Regions from separate parts of the Homo sapiens genome. Here region 2 is linked to region 1. The links come from fine-mapping of genetic effects on plasma protein levels. A gene starts in region 1. The other region holds a variant in brackets. All regions are shown on one strand. Distances are from middle to middle. Region 1 holds the start of SPINK2 (serine peptidase inhibitor Kazal type 2). Region 2 holds the start of LOC105377668 (a long non-coding RNA gene).

Region 1 (6,962 bases):
TCATCTTCTGAAATCTAGGCGGAGGTTCCCAAGCCTCAATTCCTGACTTCTGTGCACCTGCAGGCTCAACACCATATGGAAGCTACCAAGACTTGTGGCTTCCACCCTCTAAAGCCACAGCCTGAGCTGTATGTTGGCCCTTTTCACCCATGGCTGGAGCAGCTAGGACACAGGGCACCAAGTCCCTAGGATGCACACAGCACAGGGACCCTGGGCCCCACCCACAAAACCACTTTTTCCTCCTGGGCCTCCAGTCCTGTAATGAGAGGAGCTGCAGTGAAAGTCTCTGACATGTCCTGGAGACATTTTCCCCATGGTCTTGGGGATTAACATTAGGGTCCTTGCTACTCATACAAATTTCAGCAGCCGGCTTGAATTTCCCCCCAGAAAATGGGTTTCTCTTTTTCTTTCTTTCTTTCTTTCTTTTTTTTTTTTTTTTTTTTTTTTGAGACAGAGTCTTGCTCTTCTTGCCCAGGCTAGAGTGCAATGGAGTGATCTCGGTTTACTGCGACCCCTGCTTCCCGGGTTCAAGCGATTCTACTGCCTCAGCCTCCTGAGTAAGCTGGGATTACAGGTATGCACCACCACACCTGGCTAATTTTGTATTTTTAGTAGACAGGGTTTCACCATCTTGGTCCGGCTGGTCTCAAACTCCTGACCTCATGTGATCCACCCAACTTGGCCTCCCAAAGTGTTGGGATTACAGGCGTGAGCCACTGCACCTGGCCCTTTTTTTTTTCTTTTTTTTTTTGAGACGGAGTTTCCCTCTTGTTGCCCAGGCTGGAGTACAATGGTGTGATCTCGGCTCACTGCAACCTCCGCCTCCCAAGTTCAAGCAATTCTCCTGCCTCAGCCTCCCAAGTAGCTGGGATTACAGGCATGCACCATCATGCCTGGATAATTTTGTATTTTTAGTAGAGACGGGGTTTCTCCATGTTGAGGCTGGTCTCGAACTCCTGACCTCAGGTGATCCGCCCGCCTTGGCCTCCTAAAGTGCTGGGATTACAGGCATGAGCCACCACGCCCAGCTTTTCTTTCTTTCTTTTTTTTTTTTTTGAGACAGAGTTTCTTTCACTCTTGCCGCCCAGGCTGGAGTGCAATGGCGCCATCATCTCTGCTCACCACAACCTCTGCCTCCCGGCTTCAAGCGATTCTCCTGCCTCAGCCTCCGGAGTAGATGGGATTACAGGTGCCCACCGCCACGTTTGGCTAATTTTTGTACTTTTAGTAGAGACAGGGTTTCACCATGTTGGCCAGGCTGATCTCAAACTCCTGACCTCAGGTTATCAGCCCACCTCAGCCTCCCGAAGTGCTGGGATTACAAGTGTGAGCCACTGTGCCTGTCCGGGCTTTTCTTTTCTATCACATAATCAGGCTACAAATTTTCCAAACTTTTATGCTCTGCTTCCCTTATAAAACTGAACACCTTTAACAGTACCCAAGTCACCCCTTGAATGCTTTGCTGCTTAGAAATTTCTTCAGCCAGATATCCTAAATCATCTTTCTCAGGTTCAAAGTTCCACAAATCTCTAGGGCAGGGGCAAAATGCCACCAGTCTCTTTGCTAAAACATAACAAGAGTCACCTTTACTCTAGTTCCCAACAAGTTCCTCATCTCCATCTTAGACCACCTCAGCCTGGACCTTATTCTCCTTATCACTATCAGCATTTTGGGCAAAGCCATTCAGCAAGTCTCTAGGAAGTTCCAAACTTTCCCACATTTTCCTGTCTTCTTCTGAGCCCTCCAAACTGTTCCAACTTCTGCCTGTTACCCAGTTCCAAATTCACTTCCACATTTTTGGTATCTTTTCAGCAACGCCCCACTCTCCTGGTACCAATTTACTGTATTAGTCCATTTTCATGCTGCTGATAAAGACATACATGAGACTGGGAAGAAAAAAGGGTTTAATTGGACTTACAGTTCCACATGGCTGGGGAGGCCTCACAATCATGGTGGGAGGTGAAAGGCCCTTCTTACATGGCAGGAGCAAGAGAAAAAATGAGGAGGAAGCAAAAATGGAAACTCCTGATAAACCCATCAGATCTCCTGGACTTATTCACTATCATGAGAATGGCATGGGAAAGACTGGCCCCCATGATTCAATTATCCCCCTGGGTCCCTCCCGCAACACTTGGGAAATCCGGGAGATAGAATTCAAGTTGAGATTTAAGTGGGGACACAGCCAAACCATATCACCTACCTCTACAAAAAATACAAGAATATTAGCTGGGTGTGGTGGCGGATGCTTGTATTCCTAGCTACTTGTGGGGCTGAGGTGGGAGGATCGCTTGAGCCCAGGAGGTTGAGGCTGCAGTGAGCTGAGATTGCGCCACTGTACTCCAGCCTGGGTGACACAGCAAGATCTTCTCTCAAAAAAAAAAAAAAAAAGAATACAGTTATGCCCATTCATTGAGTTATAGTCTATGTCTCCTTTTGCACTGCAATGGCAGAGTTTAGTTGTGACAAGAAGTCAATGGTATTTACTATCTGGCCCTTTACAGAAAATGTTTTTTGACCCTTGTTCTTGGCTCACAAATGCTGAGACAACATGTGAAAAGCACCATGATAGAAAATATTTCTAAGGTATAATTATCAACATTTTTTTTTTTTTTTTGAGACGGAGTCTCGCTCTGTCACCCAGGCTGAAATGCAGTGGTGTGATCATGGCTCACTGCAGCCTCCACCTCCCAGGCTCAGGTGATCCTCCCACCTCAGCCTCCTAAGTAGCTGGGACTACAGGTGCGCGCCACCACACCAGGCTAATTTTTGTATTTTTTTAGAGACAGGGTTTTGTCATGTTGCCCAGGTTGGTCTCCAACTCCTGGGCTCAAACAATCTGCCCGCCTCTGCCTCCCAAAGTGCTGGGATTACAGGCATGAGCCACCCTGCCAGTCAGTGTCAACTCTTTGAAACAAAATAACCTAAAGGCAGCTGTATCCACACACATAAATTTATAAAAAATCTATCTTGAGGGGTAAATGGCTTTTCTTTTGAAGCTGAAATTCCTACTCACACACCTCTGAGCATTGCCCCTGAGTCTGGGTCAGATTTGTGTTCCCAGAGCATCAAAGGTGTTTGTAAGCAAGTGCACATGTCATTTGGTAACAGACATCCAGCACAGTTGAGAAAAGCTTTATATATAAATTATATTTTATCAATCCTTGATAAGAATCTTCAGCAAAATGACCCATGACCATTTCATGACTGTTATTCAAAGAACTGAATGTGATGTGACTTAGAGAAGTACTAACACTCATTTCAAATTTACCCCTTGGCCTCAGACAGGATTCCAGCCAGAACTCAGCCATGTGTGGTGCCAAGTGGAGTTAAAAACTGCACAGTGTCTTCTTGTTCCAGCCTTTGAGGTTGCTAAGGTCAAGGGTGGGCATGGGAACATGCCAGTCATAAGATGATTCTCCATCAGCTCTACAACCCCCTTCTACACTCTGCTATGTGGTGCCAGGTCTCAGCAGACCTCATTTCTGCTTTTTCAGCTGGCTTCCAGAAGGTTATGCCCATAGGGTCTGTCAGGGGGACACCGGAAGGCAGGAGGAGGGAGAAGGGACTGGCTCCTGCCTGCTGGCTGTTTCTTTCAGCAGTGCCACAGCAATGACTCTTCATCACTCTGATAGAATCAGCTGGCTCCAGTCTCCAGCATTTTTTTTTTTTTTTTTGAGACAGAGTTTCACTCTGTTGCCCAGGCTGGAGTGCAGTGGTGTGCTTCGCTCACCACAACCTCCACCTCCTAGGTTCAAGAGATTCTCATGAACCTGGGATTACAGGAGTATGGCACCATGTCCAGCTAAGTTTTATATTTTTTAGTAGAGACAAGGTTTCACCATGTTGGCCAGGCTGGTCTCGAACTCCCGACCTCAAGTGACCCACCCACCTCAACCTCCCAAAGTGCTGGGATTACAGGTGTGAGCCACTGCACCTGGCTCCAGTCTTCAGCTTTTCCACACACTCTTAGAGCCACCTGCATATCCAAGCAACACCCCCTTCCCATGGGTCTGAGTCCCAGCTTTCCAGGACCTCTCCTCCAAATTTCTAGTTCTGAGAATCCCAACCTAATCCGTTTGTTCCCCTAGATCGAGGCATGATGCCTACTTCCTAAAGGCTTTATCTCTGTGTTACCTCGTTTTCCCTTTCTGCTTTTTTCAGTTATCCCTACTGGATTAGCCAATTCCTTATACTAAATTATCTCTGGTGAAATACCTAGTAAACCTTGTGTTTTCCAGACTGGACCCTTACTGATAAGGCAACATGTCACAGAATCATTTGACACACAGGCATAAGAAGCAGAAAAAAAAAAAAGTGGATCTGCTAATGCACTTTTTTTTTTTTTTGACAGAGTCTTACTCTGTCGCCCAGGCTGGAGTGCAGTGGCACCATCTCGGCTCACTGCAACCTCTGCCTCTTGGGTTTAAGCAATTCTCATGCCTCAGCCTCCCAGGTAGCTGGGACTACAGGTGCGCACCACCATGCACAGCTAATTTTTGTATTTTTAGTAGAGATGGGGTCTTGCCATGTTGGCCAGGCTGGTCTCAAACTCCTGGCCTCAAGTGATCTACTTGCCTCAGCCTCGCAAAGTGCTGGGATTACGGGCATGAACCACCGTGCCTGGCCAAATTTTTTTGACATGGTCTCATTTTGCCACTGAGGCTGGAGCGCAGTAGCTCAATCTCAGCTCAATGGCCACACCTGGCTAATTTTTGTACTTTTTTTAGAGACGGGGTTTTGCCCTGTTGCCCAGGCTCCTCTCAAACTCTTGAGCTCAAGTGATCCACCAGGCTCAGCCTCCCAAAGTGCTGGGATTAGAGGCGTGAGCCACCACGCCTGGCCTTAATGCACTAACTTGCTCAGCCTCTTTGGCAAAAATTATTTCTCACAGAAGTAATGAGTAGAACAGTAGTTACTAGAGGCTGGGAAGGATAGGGGGATAGGGAGAGGTTGGTTAAAGTATACAAAATTACAGCTAGGTAGAAAGGATAAGTGCTAGTGTTTCATAGCATTGTAGGGTGCCGACAATTAACAATAATATATTATAAAGGTCGAGCACGGTGGCTCAAGCCTGTAATCCCAGCACTTTGGGAGGCCAAGGTGGGCGGATTGCTTGAGCCCAGGAGTTTGAGAGTAGCCTGGGCAACATGGTGAGAACCCCTCTCTACAAAAAATGCAAAAATTAGCTTGGCATGGTGGCATATATCTGTGGTCCCAGCTACTTGGGAGGGAGGCTGAGGTGGGAGGATCACTGGAACCTGGGAGGTGGAGGTTGCAGTGAGCTGAGATCGTGCCACTGCACTCCAGCCTGGGTAAAAGAGCGAGACCCTGTCTGAAATTTAAATAATAATAATAATTTATTATGTATTTTCAAGTAGCTAGATGAGAGGATTTTGAATGTTCTCAACACAAAGTAATGATAAATGTTTGAGGTGATGAATATGCTAATTATCCTATTTTGATCACTACACATTGTATGTATCCAAATATCACTATGTACCCCCATAAATATGTACAATCATTATGTGTCAACTCAAATAGTTAAAAAATATATTAAAAGAGGGAAAGGCAGAACGCTTCCTGAGAGCAAGGACCTCCTTTGTCGAGGTCAGGGCTGTGTCTTCAGCAACGAAACACTATCTGGGACTTAGTACATGCTTAAGAAATAGGTGTTGATTGACAGAGCTCCCAAGAGCTCCACAAGGGTCCCCCTAGGACTGTCACAGGTTCTTGTATGTCGGAGGGAGAGGTCTTCCCCTTCGTCTCCTTGGGGGGAGGGGAAGGTGTTGGGGAACAACTGCCCCTTCCTCTATCTCCCTCGCCCCTCCTTCCCCATGGCCCCCTCCCCCGTCCTTCTACCTTTCTCCTTCCCAGCCCTTTCCGGTTCTCCCCCGACCCTTCACGGCTCCTCTTCCCGCCGCTCCTCTTCCCGCCGCCCCTCTTCCCTCGCCACCTACCGCTGCTTTTCCTCCCATTCTCGCCCCGCCCCTTCCCCCGCCCTCCCCGCGCCCCGTCGCACGAGCGCTCCCTGCGAGTGGCGCAGGTAACAGACCGCAGGGGCAAGACAGCCGGCGCGGGAGGAGGATGGCGCTGTCGGTGCTGCGCTTGGCGCTGCTGCTCCTGGCAGTTACCTTCGCAGGTAGCGCTCGGAGCGGTCCTGGCGAGCGGGGACCTCCGGAGAAAAGCGGGTTTGGGAGTCAGACCGGCGGCGGACCCTGCCCTGCTCCGGGCGGCCTCGGCGACGGTACCCGCGCGCCCGTTACTGGCGGTTCCCCAGAGGACCTGCCAGGTGGAGGAACGCGAACTGGGGGTTGTGGGGGTGGCTTTGTGGAGTCAGCCACCCTCTTTAGTTCTTGCTTGGGCTTCGCTCCCAGCTCTAAGGACACCTGCCATCTAGAGCGCTTTCTCTGTTAAAGTAGATTTTCAGGTGCCCAAGATGAGGAGTTGAGTTTTTATGTATGGTCCCAAGGGAGGAGATGTGCAGGAATGAGGAATTGTGGATGCTTACGAGAAAGGGGCTTTAGTCCAACCACACTGGACACCTCTCTTAAAATGGAGTTAAAATGCTCACATCTTATATTAAATTTTGTATTTGTTACCCCGAGTTGTAAAGGAAAATAACATCATGAACTATTAATTAAGGGTTACTTCCTTGGCCAGGTGTAGTGGCTTGGGCCGGTAGTCCCAGTTACTCCGGAGGTTGAGGCGGGAGGCTCGCTTGAGACCAGGAATTGAAGCTGCAGTGCGCTAGCGCGACTTTTATTCCATAGCTTCAAAGTCCTTTCTCAACCAACCCTAATGGGAACAGAACCAAATGTTATTTCTATGTGCTTTTGGGGAGAGGTGCCATAAAAAACTGAATATCCTTTCTGGGGGAAGTGGGATGGGGACAGTTTAAAGAAGGTAGGCATTAGAGGGGAAAATAGAAGATGTGGCCTGGATAAATCCCAAACTGGATTTTA
Region 2 (8,527 bases), 32 kb after region 1:
CAGCCTGAAAGAAGGCATTGTAATAGGCAGCAGCGCCTGTACAGAATGGTCGGTAGGGGAAAATGGGGAGGCGGCAGTGGTTGGCCCCTTGAAAAAGGGTCCAGCCTTGGCCTGGGTGTGCTCATGAGAACACCTGGGGTTCCCCAGAAGCGTGGAGCAGGGCCCAAAGCTCCTTTCCCTGCAGGCTTCTTTAAGGAGAAAAAGGCATTCAGGGAGCACTCTGGCAAGGTGTGCCAGAATTAGTCTTGAAGGCACAGCTAGAGCAGACAGGGCACCAAGGCACCATTAGTAGAGGAGGGGCAGCCTCTGATTGATTATACATGAAACAAATGCCCCTTTAACCTCATGGGGATTCTTGGAACTTGGGATGTACCTGTCATCTCTTTTTCTTTCTCTTTTAATAAAGTTGAGTTGAAAAACAAACCAAATTTAGTTATTATTGTATAACAGTAGCTTTCTTTTCTTTTCTTTTCTTTTCTTTTCTTTTTTTGAGATGGAGTCTCACTCTGTCACCCAGGCTGGAGTGCAGTGGCACGATCTCACCTCACTGCAACCTCTGCCTTCCAGGTTCAAGCGATTCTCTTGCCTCAGCCTACCGAGTAGCTGGGACTACAGGCGTCTGCCACCACGCCCGGCTAATTTTTGTATTTTTTTTTTCAGTAGAGATGGGGTTTCACCATGTTGGCCGGGCTGGTCTTTAACTCCTGACCTCAAGTGATCTGCCTGCCTTGGCCTCCCAAAGTGCTGGGATTACAGGCATGAGCCACCTCTCCCAGCCGATCAGTGACTTTTGAACTCTAGCTTGCAGCCGAATCATCTGGAGGGCACACACATTGCTAAGCTCCACTCCCAGTTTCTGATTTCATAGTTATAGAATGGGCTTGAAAATTTGTATTTTTAATGAGTTCCTTGGAGCTGCTGATGCTGCTGGTCAGGGAATACATAAGAACCACTAGCATAGAAAGTTTTCTGGACCATGGAATCCTTAGCTGAAAGATTCTGTAGACCAGATTATAATACAAGATAAGCAGCCCCTACCATAAAATAGTATCCTAACAAGGTACATTCCTGGCTAGGGCCTTGGGGTAGTTTGCTAGGGCTGTTGTAACAAAGTACCACGGACTGGATGGCTTAAACAACAGAAATTAATTTTCTCACAGTTCTGGAGTCTAGACATCCAAGATCAAAGTGTTCCGGGGCTGGTTTCTTCTAAGGCCTGTCTTGGCTCTGAAGATGGCCATCTTCTCCCTGAGTCTGCACATGGTCTTCCCTCTGTACCTCTCTGTGTCCAAATTTCCTCTTCTTCCTCTCTCTCTCTTTTTTTTTTTTTTTTTGAGACAATGTATCATTTTGTTGCCCAGGCTGGAGGGCAGTGGCACAATCATAGCTCACAGCAGCCTTGAACTCCGGAGCTCAAGCTGTCCTCCCATGTAGCTGGAACTATAGGCTCACACTGCCACACCATTTTTTCTAGAGGCCAGGAGCAGTGGCGCATGCCTGTAGTCCCAGCTACTCGGGAGGCTGAGCTAGGAGGATCACTGGAGCCCAGGAGTTCTGGGCTGTACTGTGCTATGTCGATCAGGCGTCCACACTAAGTTTGACATCAATATGGTGACCTCCTGGGAGCAGGAGACCACCAGGTTCACCTGGGGTGAACTAGCCCAGGTCGAAAATGGAGCAGGTCAAAACTCCTGTGCTGATTAGTAGTGGGATTGTGCCTGTGAACAGCCACTGCACTCCAGCCTGGGCAATATAGCAAGACCTCATCTCTAAAACAAAACGTTCTATACTTTTCAAATAAAAAATAAAAAAATATATTTCTAGAGATGGGGCCTTGTTATGTTGCTCAGGCTGGCCATGAACTCCTGGTCTCAGGTGATCCTCTCACCTCAGCCTCCCAAAGTGCTGGGATTACAGGCATGAGACACCACACCTGGTCAACACTTGATATTTTTCCAGTGCTTGGCATTTGACAACCATTATCCCAGGGCACCTCATTCCTGGTATTAAGATGGCAGACTAAGAATTATCAATTTGAAGATGATGTGTTGAACATAGAATCAGAATAAATAGAATTAATAATCTTATGGAAACTGTGCCACTGTTTCTGATCCCTAAATCCAGATGTATCATCTCATGCCTAATTTAACATGTTTTGAAAACATGGCAGAATGTTTTAAATTAGAACTCCGCAAGAATATCCTATCCTGGAATGTGATTGTTGTACAAAAGGGAATCATTTACTTGTTTATTCTTTTTTTTTTTTTTTTTTGAGATGGAGTTTCGCTTTTATTGCCCAAGATGGAGTGCAATGGCACTATCTCAGCTCACCGCAACCTCTGCCTCCTGAGTTCAAGTGATTCTCCTGTCTCAGCCTGCCGAATAGCTGGGATTACAGATGTGCGCTGACACGCCTGACTAATTTTGTATTTTTAGTAGAGATGGGGTTTCTCCATGTTGGTCAGGCTGGTCTCGAACTCCCAACCTCAGGTGATCCACCCGCCTTGGCCTCCCAAAGTGCTGAGATTACAGGCATTAGCCACCATGCCCAGCCACTTGTTTATTCTTTAATAAATATTCTGTTGAACATCTACTTCATGCCAGAGATGGAGCTAGGTGCTGTGGTACAATAAATAAGGACTAGGCAGGATTATGTAGTGATTAAAACACATTCTGGGGGTCGGGCTTGGTGTCTCATGCCTGTAATATCAACATTTTGGGAGGCTGTGTGGGGAGGACCACTGGAGGCCAGGAGTTCGAGACAAGCCTGGGCAACATAGTGAGACCCCATCTCGATTGACTTTTTTTTTTTTTTTGAGATGGAGTCTTGCTCAGCTGCCCAGGCTGGAGTGCAGTGGTGTGATCTCGGCTCACTGCAGTCACTGTTTCCCCGGTTCAAGCAATTCTCCCATCTCAGCCTCCAAGTAGCTGGGATTACAGGCACCGCCATCATGCCTGGCTAATTATTTTTTTTGTATTTTAGTAGAGACAGGGTTTCACCGTGTTGGCCAGACTCATCCTGAACTCCCGACCTCTGGTAATCTGCCCAGCTTAGCCTCCCAAAGTGCTAGGATTACAGGTCTAAGCCACTGCACCCGGCCCTCTATTGAAAATTTTTAAACATTGAAAAGAAGAAGAAGAAAAAAAACACATTCTGGAGCCAAATTGCCTGAATTCAAATTCCAACTCTACCATTTACTAGCTTGACAGTTGGTTAACCACTGTCAAGTTGTGCCTCAGTTTCCTCATCTGTAAAATGGGAATAATAATTGCACCTTTCTGATAAAGGTCATATGAGAATTAAATGAGTCAACATTTGTAAGAAAGCACAGCCAAATGATATTTAACAAAATTGACAAGAACGTACATTGAGGAAAGGACATCCTTTTCAATAAATGGTGCTGGGAAAATTGGATTGCCGTATGCAGAAGAATGAAACTGGACCCCTATTTCTCACCATATACAAAAATGAATTCAAGATGAATTACAAGACTTACATGTACCTGAAACTATAAAAATACTAAAAGAAAACCTAGGTAAAACTCTTCTGGACGTTGGTCTAGGCAAAAATTTTATGACTAAGACCTCAAACATACAGGCCACAAAACTAAAATAGGCAAATGGGACTTAATTAAACTAAAAAGCTTCTGCACAACAAAAGAAATAATCAAATAATCAACAGAGTAAACAGACAACCTGCCAGATGGGAAAAAAATTTTGCAAACTATGCATCCGACAGGGGACTAATAGCCAGAATCTACAAGGAACTCAAACAACTCGACAATGAAAAACATATAACCCCACTGAAAAAGTGGGCAAAGTCCGGGTGCGGTGGCTCAGGCCTGTAATCCCAGCACTTTGGGAGGCC[G/A]AGGTGGGCGGATCACCTGAGGTCGGGAGTTCGAAACCAGTCTGACCAACATGGAGAAACCCTGTCTCTACTAAAAATACAAAATTAGCCAGGTGTGGTGGCATAAGCCTGTAGTCCCAGCTACTCTGGAGGCTGAGGCAGGAGAATTGCTTGAACCTGGTAAGCGGAGGATGCAGTGAGCTGAGTTCGCACCATTGCACTCCAGCCTGGCAACAGAGTGAAACTCCATCACAAACAACAACAAAAAACAAAACAAAAGTGGGCAAAGCAGGAGTTCAAGGTTACAATGAACCATAATCATGCAACTGCATTCTAGCCTGGGTGACAGAGCAAGGCTCTGTCTCTAATAAAAATTAAAAGGTGGACAAAATACACGAATAGACAGTTTTTTTGTTTTTTTTTTTGAGAGAGAGAGTCTCACTCTGTTGCCCAAGCTGGAGTGCAGTGGCACGATCTTGGCTCACTGCAACCTCCACCTACTGGGCTCAAGCAATTCTCCCACCTCAGCCTCCTGAGTAGCTGGGACTACAGGCATACACCACCATACCCAGATAAATTTTTGTATTTTAGTAAAGACGGAGTTTCAACATGTTGCCCAGGGTGGTCTCGAACTCCTGAGCTCAGGCAATCTGCCCACCTCAGCCTCCCAGATATTTTTCAAAAGGAGACATACAAATGACCAACAGACATATGAGAAAATGCTCAACATCACTAATCATCAGAGAAATGCAAATTAAAACCGCAGTGACAGATCATCTTATATTAGTCAGAATGGCCATTATTAAAAAGACAAAAAATAACATGTTGGTGAGGATGTGGAGAAAAGGGAACTCTAATACACTGTTGGTGGTAATGTAAATTAGTGTGTTCTCTACGAAAAATAGTATGGGGATTTCTCAAAAAACTAAAAATAAAGGAAAAGAAATCATTACAGCAAAAAGACATCTACTCTCATGTGTTTATCACACCGCTATTCACAATAGCAAAGATATGGAATCAACCTAACTGTCCATCAATGGATAGTTGGATAAAGAAAATGTGATATATATATGTATACATACACATTGGGATACCATTCAGCCTCAAAAAGAATGAAATCATGTCTTTTGCAACAACATGGTTGGAACTGGAGGCCATTAGGTGAAACAGCTCAGAAACAGACAAATACTGCATGTTCTCACTTACTAGTAGGAGCTAAATAATGTGGACACATGGATTAAAGTGCAGAGTGATAGACGATGGAGACTCAGAAGAGGGAGGGAGTGGGAGGGGCATGGATAATGAGAAATCACTTAATGGGTACAATGTATGTTATTTGGGTGATAGATACTCTAAAAGCCCTGACTTCACCACCAAACAATCTATGCATGAAACAAAATTACATTTGTACCCCATAAATTTATACCAAAAAAAGGCAAATGTAAGCATGATTTCTTAAAGATGCATCAAAAGCTGTTTTCAGTTAGTGAATATAAGAGTTTGGCAGAGAAACATCTTTGGAAGCAAACTTTGAGAACATGTTATTACAACATGTTTCTTAAAAAAACACACACACAAAATTTGTAAAAAGCAAAGAACATTATCTGGCACACTGAATGTGTTTTATAAATGTTGTCATATAAATATACCAGCCCTTGGCTTTAAGAAGCTCACAGTAGGCCGGGCGGGGTGGCTCACACCTGTAATCCCAGCACTTTGGGAGGCCAAGACGGGCAGATCACGAGGTCAGGAGATCGAGCCCATCCTGGACAACATGGTGAAACCCCATCTCTACTAAAACACAAAAAAACTAGCTGGGCATGGTGGCGCATGCCTGTAGTCCCAGCTATTGTGGAGGCTGAGGCAGGGGAATCACTTGAACCCGGGAGGCGGAGATTGCAGTGAGCAGAGATCGCACCACTGTACTCCAGCCTGGTGACACCGTCTAAAAAAAAAAAAAAAAAAGCAGCTCACAGTACTGGGAGGTAAAGAGTGACAGGTAAATGTTTCAATACAATGTAGCAAAAGGTCTAACTAAGGTCTTAGTGAAGCCCTGAACTTCCTCTGCAGCAGGATGGAATATACTAAGACCATCTGGGGCTGAATGACATGTGCTTGCCACATACACCTTCCCTCCAACACCCAAACTGGAGAAAATCCAGCAAGTTTTTATCCTTCCTTTTTATAGCTTCTACTATGAAAACAACCTCCATTATGGTAATGTATAATTATCACAAATGATTTTCAAAAGCCTATCAAATTTAAATGACAGTGAAACTTGTTTAGGAGACCACCTGTTTGAACTAATAGAACTTACGAGAATGGTTTATGTGAAAATAGGATTGGGCAACTGTTCTGCTGTTTGAAACACTGGGTGGGGTACCATGTGAATTAGATGGGGCAATAAACTTATAAGTAGGGTAGCCAACTTGTCCTGGTTTGCATGGGATGTCCTCAGTCTTATTTATTTTATTTATTCATTTATTTTTGAGACAGAGTCTTGCTCTGTCACCCAGGCTGGAGTGCAAAGGCGCAATCTCAGGTCACTGCAACCTCTGCCTCGTTGGTTCAAGTGATTCTCCTGCCTCAGCCTGCAGAGTAGCTGGGACTACAAGTGCGCACCACCACACTCGGCTAATTTTTCAGTTTTAAAACTGAAGTTTCTCATTCCCAGAAATCCCCTAGTCTTAGGCAAAAGTTTAAAATTGTTGCAATCATTTTGATAGGATATGAGAGCTTTAAAAATAAAACTATTTGGCTGCCTGTTCTCGATAGAACTGGTAAATACAGTTGAAATCAATAGATATTTACTAACTTTCTAATGAGTGGATGACAACACATATTCCTGTTCTTTTTTTTTTTGAGACAGAGTTTCGCTGCTGTCCCCCAGGCTGTACTGCAATGGCATGATCTCTGCTCACTGCAACCCCTGGCTCCTGGGTTCAAGCAATTCTCCTGCCTCAGCCTCCTGAGTAGCTGGGACTACAGGCAGGCGCCACCATACCCAGCTAATTTTTGCAGTTTTAGTAGAGACGGGGTTTCACCATGTTGGCCAGGTTGGTCTGAAACTCCTGACCTCAAGTGATCCCCCCACCTCTGCCTCCTAAAGTGCTAGGATTACAGGCCTAAGCCACCACACCCAGCCAATATTCCTGTTTGTTTTGTTTTGTTTTGTTTGTTTGTTTGTTGAGACAGAATCTCACTCTGTCACCAGGCTGGAGTGCAGCGGTGCAATCTCGGCTTACTGCAAACTTCGCCTCCCGAGTTCAAGTGATTCTCCTGCCTCAGCCTCCCAAGTAGCTAGGACAGCAGGTGTGCGCCACCATGCCCAGCTAATTTTTGAATTTTTAGTAGAGACAGTGTTTCACCATGTTGGCCAGCATGGTCTCGATCTCTTGACCCCGTGATCCACCCACTTTGGCCTCCCAAAGTGTTGCGGTTACAGGCGTGAGCCACTGCATCTGGCCCAATATTCTTGTTCTTAATGAACTACGATCTGATTCAGTGAACAAGAAACAAACTACTGTAAAGTTAAATCAAGGTACATTTGCTTATTAGTTCAAGACAATAAGAGAAATGATGTTACAAATTGACTAATGGCCAAATCAATTTTCCACTTAGAATTGCTTTGGGGATGGATTTCAGAGGAAAGGAACAGCTTTTGCTGGGGCTGAGGTATTCATGGAAAACTATTAAAACAGTTATACTTAGGCCAGATGCGGTGGCTCGTATCTGCAACCCCAGCACTTTGGGAGGCACAGGCAGGAAGATCACTTGAGCCCAGAAATTCAAGACCAGGCTGTGCAACACAGTGAGACCCTGTCTCAAAAAAAAAAAAAAAAAAAAAAAAAGTTATACCTTACAAGGGTTCAGAAAAACTGGAGTGATTTTGATAAAGGAGGAGTGTTGCAGGTGGATGGCACAGCACAGGCAAAATGACAGGAGTGGGAAGAAGCAGAAGGCAAATCCGGGGTGCGGGGGGATCAGCTCATTAAAAGGGGGAGGAGGTCGGGCGTGGTAGCTCATACCTATAATCCCAGCACTTGGGGAGGCTGATCGTGGGCAGACTGCTGGAGTCCAGGAGTTTGAGACTAGCCTGAGCAACATGACGAAATCCTTTCTCTACTAAAAATACAAAAAAATTAGCCGGGCTTGATAGAGTGCACCTGTATTCCCAGTTACTCAGAAGGCTCAGTTGGGAGAATCACCGAGCCCAGGAGGCTGAGGCTGCAGTGAGCTGAGATCACGCCATTGCACTCCAGCCTGGGCAACCAGAGTGAGACCCTGTCTAAAAAAAACGCTGTGGGTGGGTGGGTGGAGGGAGAAAAGGAGCCAGAGGAAAGAAATGCAGTGAGGGGAAGTCAGCATTTGATGATGCTTTGCAGTGTTATGCATCCTCTTATGCATGGAAGACGTCTGTTAAACAACCACTCTCTTTCCCTGTGAGAAGAAACACTACCTTCTCCCCTAAGCTGCTGTTCCCCTAAGGTGGAAATACAGGCCCTAAATATAACGCAGTGGGGTGGCTCTTTGTTTTCGTTATCTAGTGTTCATAACAAACCACTGTAAAACTTAATGAGGGCTATTTCACAGCACGCTGGGCTTAGGGCAGTCGTCTTCCTACAGGGCAGCTGGCTTCCCTCAGATAGCCAAAGCGGAAGCTTCCAGGCCTTAAGTCCC

The links. A credible set is the group of variants that fine-mapping cannot tell apart. PIP is the posterior inclusion probability: the model's chance that the variant is causal. Protein levels are from the aptamer-based SomaScan assay of Sun 2018.
Region 2: its variant is the best candidate, but not a certain one, in a credible set for the plasma level of the SPINK2 protein (Sun 2018, PIP 0.59).

Annotation. Positions count from the first base shown.
Region 1 is chr4:56,820,785-56,827,746 of GRCh38, reverse strand. SPINK2 (serine peptidase inhibitor Kazal type 2) reads left to right here and starts at 6,046. Exons shown (of 4, transcript NM_001271718.2): 1 at 6,046-6,289. The coding sequence starts at 6,085. RefSeq lists a silencer at 5,945-6,204.
Region 2 is chr4:56,787,592-56,796,118 of GRCh38, reverse strand. LOC105377668 (a long non-coding RNA gene) reads right to left here and starts at 1,197. Exons shown (of 3, transcript XR_941082.2): 1 at 1,159-1,197. It also overlaps the pseudogene RN7SL492P. The variant G/A (reference allele first, on the strand shown) is at 3,869.